Regions from separate parts of the Homo sapiens genome. Here regions 1, 3 and 4 are each linked to region 2. Evidence: fine-mapped expression QTL. A gene starts in region 2. Each other region holds a variant in brackets. All regions are shown on one strand. Distances are from middle to middle. Region 1 overlaps PNPT1 (polyribonucleotide nucleotidyltransferase 1). Region 2 holds the start of PPP4R3B (protein phosphatase 4 regulatory subunit 3B). Region 3 overlaps PNPT1 (polyribonucleotide nucleotidyltransferase 1). Region 4 overlaps PPP4R3B (protein phosphatase 4 regulatory subunit 3B).

Evidence for each region. PIP is the estimated chance that this variant, and not a neighbour inherited with it, causes the effect. A credible set is the group of variants that fine-mapping cannot tell apart.
Region 1: its variant is the best candidate, but not a certain one, in a credible set for the expression of PPP4R3B in putamen (GTEx, PIP 0.63).
Region 3: its variant is the best candidate, but not a certain one, in a credible set for the expression of PPP4R3B in whole blood (INTERVAL, PIP 0.57).
Region 4: its variant is the best candidate, but not a certain one, in a credible set for the expression of PPP4R3B in whole blood (TOPMed, PIP 0.57).

The regions. Positions count from the first base shown.
Region 1 is chr2:55,638,706-55,644,344 of GRCh38, reverse strand. PNPT1 (polyribonucleotide nucleotidyltransferase 1) reads left to right here. Exons shown (of 28, transcript NM_033109.5): 24 at 920-1,026; 25 at 1,132-1,187; 26 at 3,640-3,718. Among named protein-coding and RNA genes, the nearest start is that of PPP4R3B-DT, 24 kb to the right of the region's middle. The variant G/C (reference allele first, on the strand shown) is at 2,509.
Region 2 is chr2:55,614,224-55,619,862 of GRCh38, reverse strand. PPP4R3B (protein phosphatase 4 regulatory subunit 3B) reads left to right here and starts at 2,241. Exons shown (of 17, transcript NM_001122964.3): 1 at 2,241-2,719; 2 at 4,357-4,412. The coding sequence starts at 2,578. It overlaps PPP4R3B-DT (PPP4R3B divergent transcript), which reads right to left and starts at 1,933. Exons shown (of 3, transcript NR_186624.1): 1 at 1,481-1,933. RefSeq lists enhancers at 1,871-1,920, 1,941-2,340, 1,434-2,358, 2,359-3,285.
Region 3 is chr2:55,645,959-55,651,597 of GRCh38, reverse strand. PNPT1 (polyribonucleotide nucleotidyltransferase 1) reads left to right here. Exons shown (of 28, transcript NM_033109.5): 19 at 4,145-4,251; 20 at 5,112-5,183; 21 at 5,276-5,339. Among named protein-coding and RNA genes, the nearest start is that of PPP4R3B-DT, 31 kb to the right of the region's middle. RefSeq lists an enhancer at 927-1,539. The variant A/T (reference allele first, on the strand shown) is at 3,208.
Region 4 is chr2:55,549,178-55,554,816 of GRCh38, reverse strand. It overlaps PPP4R3B (protein phosphatase 4 regulatory subunit 3B), which reads left to right. Exons shown (of 17, transcript NM_001122964.3): 17 at 4,811-5,639. The coding sequence ends at 4,906. Among named protein-coding and RNA genes, the nearest start is that of CFAP36, 32 kb to the right of the region's middle. The variant ACTAC/C (reference allele first, on the strand shown) is at 2,992.

The sequences.
Region 1 (5,639 bases), 24 kb before region 2:
GAATTATTACTTAGTTATTTCTTTTTATTCTGCTACTTTCACTTAGTTTTATTTTAACTCTTTTATTTAAAGAGTATATAAAAAAAAGCTTTAATTTATTTTTCCTGAAGCAATGTTTGAATTACCTCGTACTTCAAGGTTTGAGGTTACTGCAAGAGAGTGAGAAGCACTGTCACCTTAGCCATTTGCTAACACTGAGAAACTGATGTGATTTTGTCCCTTATTCATTTATTCACCCCTCGTAAGAGTAAGCGGGAGAAAGAAAAAAAGTAAGGAAAGGGTTCTATTATAGTTTCTACTCGTAATTAAGAGAGCAGAACCAGACTCTCCAAAATTTGTATAGATATATTTGATTTCACTAGATGGTGAATTTCAAGAAATCAAGCATATTGGCTCACCATTGTATCCCCAGGGCCTACCTAGTATAATGCCAGGTACCTAGCAAGTATGCAGAGTGTATTTGTTGATGAATGAATTCCTTCATTCCTAAAGTAATGATTAAATACAGCATAACTCCACCCAGCTACTAATAGGTCCCTCCTATTCTCACATCTATTTTTAAGACGAGTTTCCACTGGAATGAGCAAGTTAACTTTTTTTTTTTTTGAGATGGGGCCTTGCTCTGTCACCCAGACTGGAGTGCAGTACACAATCACAGCTAACTCCAGCCTTGACCCCTGGGATCAAGTGATCCTCCCGACTGTGAGTCCCAAGTAGGTGGGCACATGCTACCAGGTCCAGCTAATTTTTGAATTTATTTTTTGTAGTAACAGGCTCTCCCTATGTTGCCCAGGCTGGCCTTGAACTCCTGAGCTCAAGTGATCCTCCCACCTCAGCCCCCCAGAGTGCTGGGATTACAGATGTGACCCACTATGCCCAGCCAAGTTAACTTTAATATGTTACATTTTGTTTTTAAAAGGTGTAACTATTAGTCAGGTGGATGAAGAAACGTTTTCTGTATTTGCACCAACACCCAGTGCTATGCATGAGGCAAGAGACTTCATTACTGAAATCTGCAAGGATGATGTAAGTATAGATCATATTAATTACGTATCATATAGCTATATTTGTTTTTTCTACTTTTTGTTGATGTTTTCTTTATGAATCTTATGGCTTATTTTGCACTTACAGCAGGAGCAGCAATTAGAATTTGGAGCAGTATATACCGCCACAATAACTGAAATCAGGTAATATCAAGTAATATACTATGCTGAGCATTTTCCTTTCTTTAGAGACAGGGTCTCACCCTGCCACCCACAGTGGGATACAGTGGTGCCATTGTACCTCACAGCTGCCTTGAACTCCTGGGATCAGGCAGTTCTCCCACCTCAGCCTCCTATTTAGGACTACAAGCACACACCACCACACGTGGCTGATTTTTTAATTTTTTTGTAAAGACATGGTCTCACTATGTTGCCCAGGTTGGTCTTAAACTCCTGGCCTCAAGCCATCCTCCTGCCTCAGCCTCCCAAAGTGCCAGGATTACAGGCATGAGCCACCGTGCCCAGCCCTGTTTTGGTTTTTAACAGATTCCTATTATAATCCCAATTTAATTTTACATTTACTTTGAAATCATAAGGTGTTTAGATTACATGCCAATTGCCATATAATCATTATTTTTTAAGGTATAGTATATTTTGTTTTCTATATCATTTTATAAAATTAAAGTAGCAGTTCTGTGGTTCTAATTATGATAGGTTCTCTTAACTGAATTCTTTTTTTTTTTTTTTTTTTTTTTTGGGACAGAGTCTCGCTCTGTCACCCAGGCTGGAGTGCAGTGGTGCGATCTCAGCTCACTGCAAGCTCTGCCTCCCGGGTTCACGCCATTCTGCCTCATCCTCCCCGGTAGCTGGGACTGCAGGTGCCCGCCACCACGCCTAGCTAATTATTTTTTGTATTTTTAGTAGAGACGGGGTTTTACCTTGTTAGCCAGGATGGTCTCGATCTCCTGACCTTGTGATCCGCCCCCCTCGGCCTCCCAAAGTACTGGGATTACAGGCTTGAGCCACCGCGCCCGGCCAACTGAATTCTTTAACCAAATTTTCTACTAGTAATTGGTGAAACCCCAAATTAATTTTCCCAGTAAATATTAAATAGGCCCAAAATAGACTTAGCAATATTTCTTTATTTCTTTTTTTTTCTTTTGATGGCTTATTTTAAACATATCTGAATGCTTAATTGGCACATATTTTTAAATCCAATTTCGGCTGTGCATGGTGGCTCACGCCTGTAATCCCAGCTCTTTGGGAGGCCAAGGCAGGTGGATCAGGAAGTGGGGGGTTCGAGAGCAGCCTGACCAACATGGTGAAACCCCATGTCTACTAAAAATACAAAAGTTAGCCAGGCATGGTGGTGCATGCCTGTAATCCCAGCTACTCAGGAGGCTGAGGCAGGAGAATCGCTTGAAGCCGGGAGGCAGAGGTTGCAGTGAGATGAGATCGCACCACTGCACTCCAGCCTGGGCGACAGAGCGAGACTCCATCTCAAAAAAAAAAAAAGCCAATTTCA[G/C]TCTCAAAGCATTTTTTTTGACCAGCTAGAAGAGCTTGTTTTTTTAGGATAAGAAAATCCCTCTTTTAAGAAAAAGGAAATTATCAAATGTAGCAAAAATGTTCAAAGCTATTTGAAATAAAATAAAAGGCAAGGAGATAATTTGTTTAATATTGCAGGTGAAAAATAAGAAATGGGATGGCTTATTTTCATAGATTAGAGAAAAAAGGGAAGATTAGTTTTTTAATGAAATAAGTATTCCATTTTACCTGACCACCTTCCTTAAATCCTTACCTTACAGGTTAATCATATGAGATTCTATACTATTTTTAAAATATTTAATGTCATTTCGAAAATTTTTGGAAAATCGAGACCAGCCTGGCCAACTTCGTGAAACCCCATCTCTACTAAAAATACAAAAATTAGCTGGTCATGGTGGCACATGCCTGTAATCCCAGCTGCTTGGGAGACTGAGGCATGAGAATGACTTGAACCTGGGAGGCGGAGGTTGCAGTGAGCCCAGATGGCACCACTGCACTCCAGCCTGGGTGGCAAAAAAAAAAAAAAAAAAAAATGTTTTTGGAAATTGTTAAGAGAAATACAGAAGAACATATATTCTAAAAGTTTTTTTTGTTGAGACGGAGTCTCACTCTGTTGCCAGGTTGGAGTGTAGTGGCACGATCTCGGCTCACTGCCACCTCCGCCTTTCGGGTTCAAACAATTCTCCTGCCTCACCCTCCTGAGTAGCTGGGATTACAGGTGCGCGCCACCAGGCCCAGCTAATTTTTATATTTTTAGTAGAGACGGGGTTTCACCATGTTGGCCAGGGTGGAGTTGATCTCTTGACCTCGTGATCTGCTCACCTTGGCCTCCCAAAGTGCTGGGATTACAGGTGTGAGCCACCGCACCTGGCTCTAAAAGCTTTTCTATTGCATGTTTTTTCTTTATCTTTTCTTCATTCTTTGATTCACACATATTTATTTATAGGGTATATTTTCAGTTGAAAAGTATACTTTTTATAGTTCTAAAAACGTGCTAGAATTGTTTCTTTTCGTTTTTTACTTTTTCCTCATATGAAAACAATGTTTTATTTGTCAATGGATATACAGATACTTATTATTTTAACCAGGCTTACTATTTATTTTTTTGTAGAGATACTGGTGTAATGGTAAAATTATATCCAAATATGACTGCGGTACTGCTTCATAACACACAACTTGATCAACGAAAGGTAAAAAGACAGATGTTATTGTTATTATTTTTATAACTGCCTTGAAACACTGTATTGAAATTACCTAGGTTGGTAAGAATTATACACTTTGCCTACTACTAGCCTAAACAGAGAAAACAAGTGGCAGAGATGCTGCTGGCAAAAAGTTTTACATTGTTTAGCATAAAGAAAAATTGGCTGGGCAGGGTGGCTCATGCCTGTAATCCCAGCACTCTGGAAGTCCGAGGCGGGTGAATCACAAGGTCAAGAAATGGAGACCATCCTGACCAACATGGTGAAACCCAGTGTGTACTAAAAATACAAAAATTAGCTGGGCGTGGTGGCGTGCGCATGTAGTCTTAGCTACTCGGGAGGCTGAGGAAGGAGAATCGCTTGAACCCGGGAGGCGGAGGATGCGGTGAGCCAAGATTGTGCCACTGCACTCCAGTCTGGCGACAGAGTGAGACTTTGTCTCAAAAAAAAAAGAGTGTCTGTTTTACCATATATTAAAATATATTATAAAGCCATAGACAATAAAATAGTATATTACCGGCCCAGAAATAGATAATCCATGCAACAAGAAAACAAAAACTAGAAATAATATACATGGGATTATAATATACGCTAGAAGTTGTATTATAGTCAGTGAATAAAGATTATTTAATAAATTATATTGGTACAGCTGGTTATCTTAAAACAGGATCTCTACTCATTTTTATACCTAAATCCTGTCTGGATCAAAGAGCTAAATGTGCTTTTTAAAAAAGGTGGTAGGAAAAGATAATCTTGTTGGGGCAGGAGGGTTTACTAGAAGAAAATTGGATGTTTTAATAAGATTAGTAGTGGAGAACTCCTCAACATGATATCAAAGCCAAAAAAGTAAATAAACTTACAAAATTTGACCCCATAATTTTTTAATTATATGGCAAAAATTTCAATAAGGTTAAGAGATAATCAGCAACCTAAAGTAAAAATGCTTATATGCAGAAGCTTAATTTACAAAGGGCTTTTATAAATCCGTAAGAATGATGAATATCAATAGAAAAATAAGTAAAGAACATGAACAAATTATTTTTATAAAAAGCCAACCAAGATATTTAATATCAACAGCAATTTTTGAAATGCAAATGAAATTAAGATATCAGTTTTAACTTTCAGATAGTTTAAAATTCTCAGTGTGTATAAGAGAAAAGATGGACATTTTCATACACTGTTGATGGGGGTGTGAATTGGGACAAACTTTTTAGAGGGTGTTTGGTAAATGTCTATGGACCTAGACATTGTAGGATTTTATTTGGAGAGGATAATTAGAGTAGATGAATTCATGATTTGTGCTACACTGCAACTTATTTTTTTTCACCTTATTATTTTGAAAAGTTTTTAATGTACAAAGAAGTTGAAAGAATGATACACTAAACCCTCATATATCTTTCTCCTATATTCATCAGTCATTAACATTTGCAACACTGGAATTTAAAGCAATTTATTGTCTTTAGGTGATTGTTTAAATAAACTATATAGTTTGAAACTTAACGGTAATTCTTAATTTATTGATATGAAAAGATGTCCTTGGGCCAGGTGCAGTGGCTCACGCCTGTAAGCCCAGCACTTTGGGAGGCCAAGGTGGACGGATCACTTTAGGTCAGGAGTTTGAGACCAGCATGGCCAACATGGCAAACCCCCGTGTCTACTAAACATAGAAAAAATTAGCTGGGCATGATGGCGTGCACCTGTAATCCCAGCTACTCTGGAGGCTGAGGCAGGAGAATCTCTTGAACCTGGGAGGAAGAGGTTGCAGTGAGCGGATATCATGCTACTGTACTCCAGCCCGGATGACAGAGCGAGACTCCATCTCAAAAAAAAAAAAAGATGTCCTTAAGATATACAGTAAGCACAGAGGGTCCATTTTTATAAATGCCGTACACATACACTAAGTAGACAT
Region 2 (5,639 bases):
AGGTTGAAGCGATTCTCCTACCTCGGCCTCCCAAGTAGCTGGGATTACAGGCCCCCACCACCACGCCCAGCTGATTTTTGTATTTTTAGCAGAGACAGGGTTTCACCACGTTGGCCTGGCTGGTCTGGATCTCCTGACCTCGGGCAATCTGCCCACCTCGCCCTCCCAAAGTGCTGGGATTACAGGCGTGAGCCACCATGCCCGGCCTCTCTTTTTAATTTCATATGTGTAAAGGCATTACTTATTCAAAACAACAAAAAAGGAAGATTGTGGGCTTATTTGGTTAGCAACTCTTTGAAGTGGAACTTTGATGACTGCCTGAAGCAAAGAACATCTGCTGGGGAAGATGTGGTTATGGGGGGCCCTCAGACTTGGATAAGCACTGAGCCCTGTGCTTTGGAGGGGTCTGAAATCCATGGAATCATGGGACTGTAGCCACCTGCAGCCCACTTTCCCTTTTCCAGACCATGCTGTGGGCACTCTAGTATTCCCTATCCCAAACGCCAAGCCTGACTCCAGGGTCTGCACAATCCTCTTCCCAAGTTCAGTCTTCCTGGGGAGTAACCAAAGGGTGAGGCTTGGACAGAAGGCTGGAGAGTCTAACATCAGGCTCAAAAATTGTGTGAAGCATTCTCTGACTCTTCCAAGACAGAAATGTTATTTTCTCTGAGGTCAAAATACATTTTGTCCACTTTCATCACATCAATTAATTGGCTCTATTGTTATGTATTATATTATGATGATTTTCTTCAAGTACATTTTCTGAGGTCTCTAGATTAAAAAAAAAAACTATGAATCCAGATTTTGAAATTATTTCTATCAGCATGTGTTCTGTACACTGACCCACGTTGTAGTGTACTGCTGAAGGGTGTCCACACTTAAGCGATCTGGTCAAAACATAAGCACGTTTTAACAAGACCATTGATTAGTTATGACTACAACTCCCAAGATGCACTGCAGGGTCAGTGTGCGCGTCTCGCCTAGTTTTCACCGATCAGGCTAATGAGCTGCACAGAAGTGGCAGCTGAACAAGCTGAGAGACTGTATTAAAGAACGAATATAGCGGGGATGGGGAGCAGGCGTCTACGGTCCCAGCTACTCGGGAGGCTGAGGTGAGAGGATCGCTTGAGCCCTCAAGGCGGAGGCTACAGTGAGTCGAGATAGCGCCATTGCACTCTAGCCTGGGAAGCAGAGAGAGACTATCAAAAACAACAAAACGAATAAAGGGATTCTACCAAGAGTGAGCTGGACTGAAATAAACGACACGCTACTACGACCCAGCGCGTGACTATATCCACCGCACAATGTGCGATAATAGCCTCAATGCAGAGAGAATTCCTCCTTTCCTTATTCAGTGCAAGAGAGCCCTATAGAGAACGCAGGAAATGCCCGCGAGAAACTGAGAAGTATCAAAACAATCACAGATATGTTAGGAAAGTAGCTCCCCGCCACTTCCCTAAACTTATCATAGCAGACTTACTTTCCAAGGTTACAAACACAAGAAGAGCACTGTATTTTCATGAAGCGGAAAATGTGCTTTACAATCGCCAGCTACTAAGAGCCTTAACGGTGAAGCGCTCTGCAAGAAACAGGAAATCGTCAACACACTTTCTGCATGAATTGCCTGGAGAGTTGTGTCCATAGACAATTCCTGGTTAGATGCTTAATTGTAGCAGACTCCATAACGGGGTTTAGCGGGTTTCCATTCGGCAGAAAGGGCTCCACGTTCTTTTTCACAGAAAGGTTTAAACTTATTTTTCCTCCTCAGGCGGACGAAGTGAGCGTCGTTCCGTGAAGGTATGAAACCCTTTTCCTTCCTTTCTGTCCCTGGTTACTCCGGTTCAAGGCTACGTACTTCCCCGGTTTGCTTTGTTTTTTCCTCAGAGCTAAGTTCCTAGGAACGTCACATACTGGTGCCATCCAACAACATGACGACGTGCGGAACCGAAGTCCCCTTCCACCTAGCGGCCTCTCGCGGCGCAGGCGTGGACGGGGAGATCGCGAGAACCTCCCGCCCAATTGCGACCCCGCGCCAAGAGGCGGGGCCGAAAGAGGAGGAAGTCGGGCCGAAAGAGGAGGAAGTCTCGCCGAAGTACTCCCGCCCCAGTCGGTACCCCTCCTCGCGAGAGCGCCGAGCATTCCGGCCTGGGAAGCGCGTGCAGAAGCGGAGGTGCTGCTCATGGGACTTGTCGGCCGCCGTAGCCCCTGCTAGGACAGCCCGTGCGAGCCTGCTGGAGGAGGAAGAGAAAGGCAGAGAGAGTCGGGTTACAAGATGGCGGATCTGTAGTAGTTACCGCGGCGGCGGGAGAGCAAGCGAGCCCTGGGGGGCAAAGAGACGGGAGAGTGGGTGTATGCGCGGGTGAAGTGAGAGGTAACGGGGCCTCCGGGCGGAGAGGCCTCAGTGGCTCTTGTCACCCCTTCTCGCGGCTGAACCTTTGGAGCCATGGTGAATTCGGGCCTCTCCGAAGCCGCCGCCGCCGCCACCGCCACTACTGCCTTTACCGTCTCCTAAGAGTGAGGAGCGCGGACGAGGTAAGCGAGGAGGCGGCGGCTAGAGCGGTGGAGACAGCAGCCACCATGTCGGATACGCGGCGGCGAGTGAAGGTCTATACCCTGAACGAAGACCGGCAATGGGACGACCGAGGCACCGGGCACGTCTCCTCCACTTACGTGGAGGAGCTCAAGGGGATGTCGCTGCTGGTTCGGGCAGAGTCCGACGGTAAGGTTATCGGAACTGTAGAATAGGGGATAGTGCCTCTGGTTGGGGCACAGCTTGGGTTTAGGGCCCTGGGCCCGTTACCGTTGCTACTCCTTCGGGACAGCGCGTTGGTTCTGAACTGGCTCTTGTGTACGGCAAAAACAAAGTACTGTACTTTTGACTGGACTTATCCTCGGAGACCGAGACTCTCTGTCCTTCTCCCATCTCTCTTAAGGATTGGACTCCTTCCTTTCCAGTCCCTCCTCTTTTGAAGAGGGGAGAGTGTGAGAGAGAAGGGAGGAAGTAGTGAGAGACTAGGTACTGATGTCGCCCTAGGAGCTGACACCTTCCTCCCCCTTTATTTACTTATCCATTATACGTCTAGTACAAACGGTTTAGGGAAACTTTTCTTTCCGAGTGTTTTTAAAAAAAAAAAATTGTACCAACGGGCCCCAGGTGCCACAGTCGACAGGTGCTGGGGAAAACCGAAAGGCACGTTTTCCTGGCTGTATTGCTGACTGTTGCCACGATACATGGACACACAAGCACATACATCTGTAGTCTGCATTTCTTCGGGCTGCCTTTGTAGAAGGCGCTATGAGAAAGTGAATGCCTTACAATCTAAGCAAGTTGGGACACCAAAGCAGGTTGTAAACTGCTGTGTTCTTTGGTTTATTGTAGTCATGTGAAGTATTTTAAATTACAAAATGTAGAGCCGTAATTAAAATGCCTTTTATAGTATAATCTGGACTTGATTTGAACAACTGATATAGGCAGTTAGAAAAATAATCTTAGGTTTAGTCTTGACATATTTTGTATTCTTGCTTGTTCCCTTTTATTTTAAATAGTCATCACTTCTACAGAAGGTGTTCTTTTGTTCTTAATGAGGAAAGGATAAATGCAGCACTGTAATTTCTATACTAAGTATTTAATCCCTGTCATGATGTTTTTGTTTTGTAATTTGCATTATTTGTTAAACTGGGAATGCAATAAAACAACTTTTGTTAAAACGAATGGCTTGAAGTGGTCATTTAGACCTTAAAATTTTTATTTCAATAAAATTTTAATAGTCATCTAGTCTCCTCATTCCTTGGTTTGATTGTTGGTTTTAGATTAATTTTTCCTTTAAGGGTGTATGGGAATAGGGTGAAATATTTTAGATTAAATGTGAAGCCTAGATTTGGAGAGAAAATGTGAATTCGAATACATTTTATTAAGATGTCCAACTCGGTAAAAAGACTTGAAAAGTTTGCGGGGGCGGGGGGCGGGGTTTAAATGTGTATTTTTTTTTTTTTTTTTTTTTTTTTGGAGACAGAGTCTTGCTCTGTTGCCAGGCTGGAGTTCAATGGCGCGATCTGGGCTACTGCAACCTCTGCCTCCTCTCCCTCTCTCTCAAGCGATTCTCCTGCCCCACCCTCCCGTGTACCTGGGACTACAGGCATGCGCCACCACGCCCAGCTAATTTTTGTATTTTTAGTAGAGACGGTTTCACCATGTTGGCTGGAATGGTCTGGATCTCTTGACCTCGTGATCTGCCCGCCTCCCAAAGTGCTAGGATTACAGACGTGAGCCACTGCGCCCGGCTTTAATGTGTATTCTAATTTTTATTCAGGGTTTTATCATTTGAGACTTATGATGTATTATTTTTTATCTTTCAGGATCACTACTCTTGGAATCAAAGATAAATCCAAATACTGCATATCAGAAACAACAGGCAAGTAGTTGTTTATCTTTAATTTGAAAGACTTCATCTGTGATCAAGGAAGTATTAATCTGACAAAGGTGGGAAAGCTTTCCTGACAAGAAAAAAACATGTTTGGTAAACAAAGATCATGTGTATTTCTCTTGCAGGTTAAAAGTTTCAGACTGAAAAAAAGTTTTTGTACTGGTGATAATTATCATTTTTGGATTGAGCCACTGTCGGTTTATTCTAAGATGTATTTATTAGTATTATTTAACTGTAGTTAGCCAAGTCTCTTCTATACCTTGTACATGAAACCTTTTATTCTGAGTCACGTTTAAAGGAAATGACATAGAACAAAATTCAAAGGGATACTCTTAAAGCAAGGAAAGCCTGTTTGTGGTGTGAAATTAAATCCTTTGACTCAAGTAAAGGTAGAGGTTTTGAAGTAGAAGCATTAAATCCTGCTCTTTAATTGTTGTGTATTTTTAATATAGTAATCAATGGATACTTTATAAAAATGTACATTACCAAGTATGTAACATCTTCTGTTAATATTGTCTTATTTGGGAAAGAAAATGTGTATTGTATTTTAGCACGCCTGATTAATCTGAAAATGGTAGCAGTGATTCAATCTTTTTTATTCTGTGAATGTTTTTGTTTTTATTATGAAATATATTAAAATTGAAAAGTACAGAGAATAATCGGTGTCTACTGTAACACCACCAGATTTAACAATGTTAATGTTACGCCATATTTGTTTCAAATATTTTTGTAATATTGAACATTATGGATAGAGTTAAAGCTTGTTTGTATCCATCCCGTTGTTTACATTCTCCATCCCCTACATAGGTAACCACTATTCTGAAGTTGATGTGTATTCTTTGTGTACATGCTTTTATACCTTTTCTGCATATGTATGTATCCATAAATAATATGTAGTCTGTTGTGTGTTTTTAAACTTTACACAGTGGATGTCATACTCTTACATGTATTCTGCAGCTTGCATTTTTCACACATTCATTTTGAATATTCGTTCATGTTAACAATGTAGATCTAGTTTTCTTTTTAAACTCTGTATAGTATTCTTATGTATGACATACACTTGTTGTTATACATTTGAATTATTTCCAGGTATTCTTTTTTGTGTGTGGTATGTAAAGTCACGATGGCAGAGATTTTTGAAGGAAGATAAATTATTTTAGGATTACATTTACAGCGTCAGTGCCCACTTCAAGGTTTATGAAAATTTGGATGCCC
Region 3 (5,639 bases), 32 kb before region 2:
TGATGACTCTTAAGGAGCATGCTGCCTTCAAGCGTCTGTTTAACAAAGCACATCTTGCACCGCCCTTAATCTATTCAACCCTGAGTGGACACAGCACATGTTTCAGAGAGCACAGGGTTGGGGGTAAGGTCACAGATCAACAGGATCCCAAGGCAGAAGAATTTTTCTTAGTACAGAACAAAATGAAAAGTCTCCCACGTCTACCTCTTTCTACACAGACACGGCAACCATCCGATTTCTCAATCTTTTCCCCACCTTTCCCCCCTTTCTATTCCACAAAACCGCCATTGTCATCATGGCCCGTTCTCAATGAGCTGTTGGGCACACCTCCCAGACGGGGTGGTGGCCGGGCAGAGGGGCTCCTCACTTCCCAGTAGGGGCGGCCGGGCAGAGGCGCCCCTCACCTCCCAGACGGGGCGGCTGGCCGGGCAGAGGGGCTCCTCACTTCCCAGTAGGGGCGGCCGGGCAGAGGCGCCCCTCACCTCCCGGACGGGGCGGCTGGCTGGGCGGGGGGGCTGACCCCCCCACCTCCCTCCTGGACGGGGCGGCCGGCCAGGCAGAGGGGCTCCTCACTTCCCAGTAGGGGCGGCCGGGCAGAGGCGCCCCTCACCTCCCGGACGGGGCGGCTGGCCGGGCGGGGGGCTGATCCCCCCACCTCCCTCCCGGACGGGGCGGCTGGCCGGGCGGGGGGCTGACCCCCCCACCTCCCTGCCGGACGAGGTGGCTGCCGGGCAGAGACGCTCCTCACTTCCCAGACGGGGTGGCTGCTGGGCGGAGGGGCTTCTCACTTCTCAGACGGCGCGGCTGCCGGGCGGAGGGGCTCCTCACTTCTCAGACTGGGCGGTTGCCGGGCGGAGGGTCTCCTCACTTCTCAGACGGGGCGGCCGGGCAGAGACGCTCCTCACATCCCGGACGGGGCGGCAGGGCAGAGGTGCTCCCCACATCTCAGACGATGGGCGGCCGGGCAGAGACGCTCCTCACTTCCCAGATGGGATGGCGGCCGGGAAGAGGCGCTCCTCACTTCCTAGACGGGGTGGCGGCCGGGCAGAGGCTGCAATCTCGGCACTTTGGGAGGCCAAGGCAGGCTGCTGGGAGGTGAAGGTTGTAGCGAGCTGAGATCACGCCACTGCACTCCAGCCTGGGCACCATTGAGCATGGAGTGAACGAGACTCCGTCTGCAATCCCGGCACCTCAGGATGCCGAGGCTAGCGGATCACTCGCAGTTAGGAGCTGGAGACCAGCCCAGCCAACACAGCGAAACCCCGTCTCCACCAAAAAAATACGAAAACCAGTCAGGCGTGGCGGCGCGCGCCTGCAATCGCAGGCAGTCGGCAGGCTGAGGCAGGAGAATCAGGCAGCAGTACCGTCCAGCTTCAGCTCGGCATCAGAGGGAAACCATGGAGAGAGGGAGAGGGAGACCGTGGGTAGAGGTAGAGGTAGAGGTAGAGGTAGAGGTGGAGAGAGGGAGAGAGGGCAGGATTTTTTTTAAGTAAGAATTCTTTACCAATCCTTCTTTCCCCAACATAAAATCTCCTATTTGAAGTGGAGTTTGAGGTAGGGACTCGAGAGGCAGTGCCTCAAGAAAGCCACACATTGTACAATCTGAAGGTTATTGTTACGCTAAGGAGTTTGGACTTAAAGCCAGCATTTTTCCAATTCAGTATTCCATGGAATAGTGTTCCACAGGACATTGATTATTGTATACCATGAAAAAGTTTATTCTGTTCTAAAGTTAAGTTTCAGCAGGGTTAAGCAGGTTTATTTAATATGGATTAAATAGACTTTAATAAGCTAATCCGAATACTGACTCTCTAGGAATAGGACATGTAATATTTTTCCAAATTTATTTGACCACAGAATATGTACAAAAATTTCCTGAAAGTAGGCAATGGGGAACTTGAAGGATTTTATGGAAAACAGTGGCATGATTTGAATCTGCTTTTGTTTTTTCCAAACAGTTTTTCCCAGCTTAAGTGATGAATAGCCCTGCGGAATGAGATGGGAGAGACTAAGAAGCAAAGAGAGAAAGTAAAATCTGGGAAGCCAGACAGGGAGATTGTTGCCAGGGCAAGAAATGATATGGACTCAGACTAAAAAGTTACAATAGGTATTTTAATATTTAGGGTAAAGGACAGCTTTCTAAAAAAATAAACAGATCTTTGTGACTTGATGGGATATAGGAAATGAGGAAAGAAATGTTGATTCTGGCATGAGTGTCTTAGTTGCTTTCAACCAAAGAATGCAGGAGGAAAAGGATTTTTTGACAGTGATTCAATTTTGAACATATATGTATTTCTTTCATCATCATCATTATTATTATTTATAGAGATGAGGTCTCAATATATTGCCCAGGCTGGTCTCAAATTCCTGAGTTCAAGTGATCCTCCCATCTTGGCCTGCCAAAGCGTTGGGATTACAAGCATGAGCCACTGGGCCTGGCTCAATTTTGAATATATATTTAAGGTGCTTTGGGGACATTTAGCTGGAGATGTCTGACAGGGAGTTTACTAATACAGGTCCAGGGTTTGGCACAGATAGCTGGACAGGAGGGATAGATTTTTAAGTCATCAACATTATAGATGGTGGTTAAAATCGTAAGTATAGATGAGGTTGCTTAGAGAAAATGAAATGAGATCCACACTCCTTTATACCAAAGTAAATTCCAAGTGATCAAAACTTAAACATTTTTAAACAAATGAAAGATGGTAGGTTTTATCAAAATCTTGGAGAAGAAAAGCTCTGCTAAGCAAAACCCAGAAACCATGATTACGTAAACTAAAAATCCTACACAGAAAACTAATGACCATAAGCAAAGTCAACGAACTAGGAAATAAAATATTTTATTTATATGTTATTAAACATAATATTTTATCTTTACATTTTAATAAAGCTCTGTCCATATTGAAAGAAAATCAGTAATAAAAAGACTGCCAACCAAGTAGAAAAGTGTTGAAGGCCATGAACAGGGAGTTCTCAAAATAAGACATATAAATAGGTTTATGAACATGAAATAGTTTTCAACCTCAGTCATAAAAAACAAGTCAGATTTAAAATAACCATTTTTTACACTTTAAATTGAGAAAAATCAAAAGATTTGACAAGAATTAATAAGAATATAGAGTAGCATATACCTTCTTACACCACTGGTAAAAGTTTAAAATGCTATGTCTTTAGAAGGCAGTTTGACAGTCTAACAAACGTAAATGC[A/T]CATACCTTTTGACTCAGCAATCGCACTTCTGTGTGTGACTTGTAAAACATACAGGGAGTACTAAAACTATTCAAAGGAATAAAGTAGAGCTTTGTGTGGTGGTATGTGTCAATATCCAAGACATGTTATTAAGTGAAAAAGGCAAGGTGCAGAACAGTAAATGCATACAGTCTGCCGCCACGAGTAAAGAAAACAAAAGATTATATTTACATTTATACTTGTGCACAGAAATTTTCTAGGAGGATACACTAATGTTAGCTGCCATGGGGAGGTAAACTGAGGAGTTCAGGCTGGAAGAATTTACCAAATAGATGCTTACTTTCCAACAAAAAGAAAATAAGACACCTGAAGCAAAAAAGCAAACCAACGGATAATTTAAAAGTTATAAAGTTTGCTATTGTTAGAGAAGTTTTTGCTGGATATAGTACTTGTTTACATTGTTTTAGGGAACTTTATTATATGTTCAAAAACAAACGAAGTAGTCAGATGACCTCTTAAGACTTCCAACTCAGCTTCGGTGATTGTCAATTTAGGCAACAATATCCACTTACATTAAAAGTAAATGTCTGCTGGGCGCGGTGGCTCACGCTTGTAATCCCAGCGCTTTGGGAGGCTGAGGCTGGCAGATCACCTGAGGTCAGGAGTTCAAGACCAACAGGGCCAACATGGTTGAAACCCCATCTCCACTAAAAATACAAGCAAATTAGCTAGGCGTGTTGGCGGGTGCCTATAATCCCAGCTATAGGGGAGGCTGAGGTGGGAGGATTGCTTGAACCCAGGAAGCAGAGGCTACAGTGAGCCAAGATCATGCCACTGCACTCCAGTCTGGGCAACAGACCGAGACTCCCTCTCAAAAAAAAAAAAAAATTGATAGATAAATATTTGTTTTAGGCTCATGTACACATTACCCACAGTTGTTCTTTTTCCCAATTATAGGGGTTCCAATTTCATCTGCTGTTGCAGGCGTAGCAATAGGATTGGTCACCAAAACCGATCCTGAGAAGGGTGAAATAGAAGATTATCGTTTGCTGACAGATATTTTGGCAAGTATATTCTCGGTTTCAAATATTTAATAATGAAGACTAAAAATAAATAAATAAAAATTAAAAGATAAAAACAAATAATGGTGAAGACTATATGTACTTTGCACCTAGCGTATGCTTAGAAGAATGCTAGTATTTGAAGAACAGGTACTTGTTCTTCCCTTCCTCCTCTGCATGTTCACCTTGTATCTTATAGGATATGAATTTAAAATAGATATTATATTAATAGTAATAGGCCAGGCACAGTGACTCATGCCTGTAATCCCAGCACTTTGGGAAGTCAGGAGTTCCAGACCAGTCTGGCTAATGTGGCAAAACTCCATCTCTACTAAAAATACAAAAATTAGCCTGGGCATGGTGGCACACACCTGTAATCCCATCTACTTGGCAGGCTGAGGCAGAATTGCTTGAACCCGGGAGGCAGAGGTTGCAGTGAGCCAAGATCGTGCCACTGCACTCCATCCTGGGCAACAGAGCAAGACTGTGTCTCAAAATAAGTAAAATAAAATAAAATAAAATGATTACTTTAAAAAAATAGTAATACTTACCCTTAAGTATTGCAGTAATACTTACACAGTGTAAGTATTCATAATGACTCACTTTAGGATGAGCATAAATTCATTCTCAGGCATTTATGAGGGAAAGGAATGATCTAAAAATAAAATGATGTTTCTGGTGAAAATAATTGTAGCTTAAAAAGTCACAAATTGGAAGTGGTAGTTAATGTAGAAAACATTGCTTTGTGTTTGGACTTAGGATATGGTTTACTTCTAAAGCTGTTTTTTGAAATGTTTCTACAGTGAATATGTTGACTTTTGTTTTTGTTTAAAACTATGTCATAACTTTTTAAATTCCTGAAGGGAATTGAAGATTACAATGGTGACATGGACTTCAAAATAGCTGGCACTAATAAAGGAATAACTGCATTACAGGTATTTTTAAAACCCATTTTGTTTCATTTTTGTAACATTTAAATAATGCCATGAGTCAATATTTATATAATTGTTTGACTTTTCCATATTAGGCTGATATTAAATTACCTGGAATACCAATAAAAATTGTGATGGAGGCTATTCAACAAGCTTCAGGTGAGCTAGTGTGCTTGATTCTCCCTTCATTCTTTTCCACTTTGCTAATGGGAACTATAGTTCTCATTAGGCTTATTATAAAATATTGCTTTAAAAAGTGGAATTTCATATAACTTAGATCAAGAAGTACTGGCCAGGTGTGGTGGCTCATGTCTGTAATCCCAGCACTTTGAGAGGCCGAGGCAGGCAGATCACTTCAGGTCAGGAGTTCGAGACCAGCCTGGCCAACATGGTGAAACCCTGTCTCTACTAAAAGTACAAAAATTAGCCGGGCATGGTGGTGCATACCTGTAATCCCAG
Region 4 (5,639 bases), 65 kb after region 2:
GGCAGTGATTTCTTAGATATGACACAAATAGCTCAAGTGACAAAAGAAAAATAATAAATTGGACTCATTCAAAATTCAAAAATTTTGTACTCCAAAGGATACTACCATAAATTGAAAAGACAATCCACAAAATGGGAGGAAATATTTGTAAATGATATATCTGATAAGTAACTGGTATCCAGAATATATAAAGAACTCTTACACCTCAGCATGACAACCCCGTTTTAAAATGGACAAAGGATTTTAACAGACATTTCTGCAAAGAAGATACACAAGTGGCCCATATAAACATGTGGAAAGATGTTTAGCATCATTAGTAAGGGAAATGCAAGTCAAAATCACAATATGATAGCATTTCACATCCTCTAGGATAGCTATAATAAAAAAGATGCACAAAAACAAGTGTTGGTAAGAATGTAAATTGTGACACCCATTGCTAGTGAGAATATAAAATAGCACAACAGGCCTGGTGCATAGGCTTATGCCTGTAATCCCAGCATTTTGGGAGGCCGAGGCAGGAGCATCGCTTGAGCCCAGGAGCTCGAGACCAGCCTGGGCAAAATGGCAAAACCCCGTCTACAAAAATTAGCTGGACATGGTGGCACATGCCTGTGGTCCCAGCTATTCGGGAGGCTGAGGTGGGAGTATCACTTGAGCCCAGCGGGCAGAGGTTGCAATAAGCCGAGATCACATCACTGCACTTTCGAGTCTCTAAGACAATGTCTCAAAAAATAAATATATAAAAATAAAATGGTGTAGCAGCTTTGGAGTACAGTCTGGCGGTTCCCCAAAAAGTCAGAGTACCATATGACCCAGAGTTACCATATGACCCAGCTACCTCATTTCCTAGGTATATATTGTAAGAAAATTGAAAACATGTGTCCACTGTAAAACTTGTATATGAATGTTAATAGCAGTATTTTTCATAATAGCCAAAAAGTAAGAATAACCCAAATGTCTCTCAGCTGATGAATGGATACACAAAATGTAGCATATTCATACAGTGGATATTATTTGGCCATAAAAAAGAATGAAGTCCTGATATGCTAAGCATAGATTAACTTTGAAAACATTGTGGTAATTGAAGTAAACCAGTCACAAAAGACCACATATTGTATGATTCCATTTATATGAACTGTCCAGAATAAGCAAATCCGCAGAAACAAAGTAGGTTAGTGGTTGCCAAGAGCTGGGTGGTGTGGGGGGTGGTGGGGGAATGAGGACTGTTTATGGGGACTTTTTTTGGTGGGTGAAATGGTGGAAATGTTCTGGAATTGGTGGTGATTACGTAACTTGTGAATATACTAAAACCACTGAATTATATGCTCTGAAATGGTGAGTTTATGGTGTGTGAAAATTATACACTTTAAAAACTTGACTTTATGGTATGGACTTAGAGAGTAGTGCCCTGCTTTTTTCGGGAGGTGTTAGTTGTTTGTAGTTCCCCCCATACTCCTGTGAAGCCATCTAATTTTTACAGACAAAGCTAGTCTCTTACACCTTGTAAGTATAAGAATGGTTGTTAGTGTTCTGAGTGCCTACATAGCAAAGCTTATTGTGGGGTAGGCGTGTCTGCTCAGTATACAAAATTTAAATTTATTCTTTCATTTTCAGCCTGGCCTTACCCATGCCCTTTACTTTGCCTAAAGTCATGAAGTATATGGTCCTTTGCTCTGTAAAGTTCATTACATTCTCTATAGAATTTATTCTTTATAGAGTCATTTTCTATGTAGAATTCTCTGTAGTTGGTGATGGTGGAGGAACAGAAATCTCCTGGCTGTCAGAGGTGTAGAATCAATGACCCAGTTGTCTGTTTTACTATAATTAAACTGTTTTCCCTGCTTTCCCCAATATTTTGGTGCCTTTACTGCCTAGCTTCTTTCTGGGGTTTTCTTAAGACAAATCAGTTTCTCGTTTCTGTATCCCTCTGCAAATACTTAGTTCTTGGCTTCTTCCTGTTGTATGACTTGCCTTGCCTCTGATTTCTCTTTTCCAAAAATGCCTTGGCAACTCTAAACTGCTGTTCTCTCTTCTCCTGTTTTCTTTGCTGGTATTCACTTTTTAAATTTCTTACCTAAATACCCTGCAAAAACAACCCAAATGTCCAACCAGAAATTCAGGAATTAAAGTATATGATGAAGCCGAGCATGGTGGCTCGGCTTTGGGAGTCTGAGGTGGGCAGATCACTTGAGGCCAGGAGTTCAAGGCCAGCCTGGCCAACATGGTGAAACCCCATCTCTACTAAAAATACAAAAGTTAGCCAGGCATGGTGGTGCATGCATGTAGCCCAAGCTACTTGGGTGGCTGAGGCACAGGAATCGCTTGCACCCTGGAGACAGAGGTTGCAGTGAACTGAGATCACACAACTGTACTCTAGCTCAGGCGACAGAGCAAGACTCTTAAAAAATATATATATATTCATACCATGGAATGCAAGGGTTTAAAACAATGAAATGGAACTTTATGTACTGACATCGAAAGCTTTTTTTTATATGAACATGATTGTAAAAGAGTAAATATAATTTCAATCTGCTATTTTAAAACAGTACATTTCTAGATACATATTAAAAGTATGGAATCAGCTTCACAAAGTGCATCTCTAGATTACAGGCCTTTTTACTTCCAACATTTCATATTTTGCATTTTTATTATTTTTATTGTAAACATGTTTTAAATGTATGTTAGTTTGCAGAGATAATATAAGTAAAACTCAAATTGTATAAGTGAGTTTTTCAGACAATTTATTAATCTTGGGCAGAAACAATTAAGTGTTAACCATTTGGAATACAAATGTTTGTACGTTATGATATGTAATACTAAGCATAATTAAAACTTTGTAACTTTGCTGTCATCTTTTTGATTATCAGATTGGTGCCTTTTTATACCAGAATTATTTCTTGTTTTTCCTCTCTTCCAATTTGTTTGGCTTAGAAACAAAATAATAGAAAAATGATAGTAGTAATAGCAGCTAATAGCACTTATTGAACACTA[ACTAC/C]ATACGAAGCACTGTGCTGAAGTGCTTTAGATGTTTGGTTATCTATTTATTTATTTATTTATTTATTTTTGAGATGGAGTCTTGCTCTTGTTGCCCAGGCTGGAGTGCAGTGGTGCAATCTTGGCTCACTGCAGCCTCTGCCTCCCGGGTTCAAGCAATTCTCCTGCCTCAGCCTCTGAAGCAGCTGGGATTACAGGCATGCGCCACCACTCCTGGCTAATTTTTTTATTTTTAGTAGAGATGGGGTTTCACCATGTTGGTCAGGCTGGACTCCAACTCCTGACCTCAGGTGATCCACCTACCTTGGCCTCCCAAAATGCTAGGATTACAGGCATGAGCCACTGCGCCTGGCCATCAATTTAAATTTCAAAATAGTTCACTGAGGCCTAAATACTACTATACCAATTTTACAGACAAACTGAGGCAGAGGTATTAAACCACTTGCCCAAGGTTTTGTGTTTTTTTTTGTTTTTCTTTTTGTTTTGAGATGGAGTCTTGCTCTGTTGCCCAGGCTAGAGTGCAGTGGTGCAATCTCCACCTCCTGGGTTCAAGAGATGCTCGTCCCTCAGCCTCCCGAGTAGCTGGGACTACAGGTGCCTGCCATCACGCCAGGCTAATTTTTGTATTTTTGGTAGAGATAGGGTTTTGCTATGTTGGCCAGGCTGGTTTTGAACTCATTATCTCTCAGGTGACCCATCCGCCTCGATCTCCCAAAGTGCTGGGATTACAGGCATAAGCCCAGCCCCAAAGTTTTGTTTTTGTTTTTGTTTTTTTTTACATAAAACGTGGTGTCATTAGAATTTGACATCAGACCTACAGTTAGCCTATTTTTAACAATTTAGCCATATTGCTTCTTGCATATCCAGACTTAAGATGTGTGTGTGATTAAGTTGAGAAACAGATTCTCAGACAGGTATATAAGTCTTTCTGATAACTGTTTCTAGCTGCCCAGAGGCCTTTTTTTGGTTGGTTAATATTATACTGATTTGGTTACATTCTGGTAAAACCCGATACCTCAGTACTTCAGGTATGAAGTATGAGTTACTTCAGTTGTATTTGTTTTATCTCCTAGAGGTCTGAAGGGTTTGAACTAAATACAGTGTTTACAGTAGCCCTCTTAACCTATAGGACATAAGTTTTCATGGGATTGGCTCAAAATGAATGAAACCCTGTGGATGTGTAATTTTCTGGAGAGTACCCAGAGTTTTTCTAGGATTTTCACAGAGGTCTGTTACTCATCAAAGGCCAAGACCACGAATTACCTCATCCTTATTGTTCTTTTGGTCAGCGAGCTAGCCCTAAATGTTTTACTTATTATTTTATAGGAATCATTTCATGTGTTTATCTCCAGCCATTTAAGCTGTACTTCAAAAGCACAATGAAAATAATGTGTACTTAGTGATGAAATATACACAAGATGAACAAAGACTACAAGGGGCTTTCTTGTGGTAATGAAATTAGAGAAATGAACCAGTTCATCTCCAATGTCCTTTCCAGCTTCCAAATGTTATTAATTGTTATCCCTACTGTTTGGAAAAGTAGACATTTTCCCACAGTAAAATTTTGCAGAATTGAGTTTTGAAGTATCATTAATAATCCAAGAACCAGATAGAAAAGTTAAGGGTTACTGCAAGTGCTACCAATTACTACTCAAACGTTCATAATTTCAAGCAGTTCCTTTATCAAATTCAAATGTTAATTTCTGATATGATTTAGAAAAACGATTTCTGATATTTTTACAAGTGATTGTATTTGTACTAAAAGCTCTTTTTTGTTATATATGTTTAAAGAAAAAATTTTTAAATTCTTCAATAGGGAAGTTTGGTTGGCTTAGTGGATTATCCAGATGATGAAGAGGAAGATGAAGAAGAAGAATCGTCCCCCAGGAAAAGACCTCGTCTTGGCTCATAAAATATTTATTAGGGGACCCTCAACATGTGGTCTTACAATGCTGCAACTGTTCAGTGAGCTGAAAATCTGAATCAGAAAGCTTTCTCAATTGAACTTATAAAATATACAAGGAGTAGCAAAAGACAGTATATCAGCTAAGAGAGTTTAGTTCTAATAAAAATCAGGCTTCCCAGGAACTTGATTGCTTGCTAGTAATTAAGGGGTTTGCCTTTTAGGCTGTCAAAACAAACATTAGTAACCAGAACCTGGGAGACAGCTTCTCAGCAAGGAAAAGTCACAGGTTTGGGGACGGTTTAGGGGAGGGGAAAAGGTTGATATAATAATGCAGGGTTGCTCCTCGGGGTGTCGATCTAGAAACAATTTTACAGAACTTCAGTTGTAAACTCAATAACATTACTTGTATAATGGTGCTGGCCATGTTGTTGTTTTAATCAGTTGCCTCTTTTTAAAAGAAATTTTTATGGAAAACACATTCAACTATCATTAAAAAAATGAAGTTAAGCTGTTGGGACCATTTCTTTAAGATTTAACAAAAGTTCAGCCTTTTAGGTAGTTGAAGGGAAGTACACCCCGTATTCAGCACATGTTGAGTTTTCTACACCAGGAATTTTCAATATGTATATTGATGAAAACAAGCTCAATTCAAACTGGACAGTTTTAAGATAATGTTAAAATCAGCACTTTTAGAGACAACGAAGGCCAAGAATCAGTACAGTAGTATTCCAAAATGATT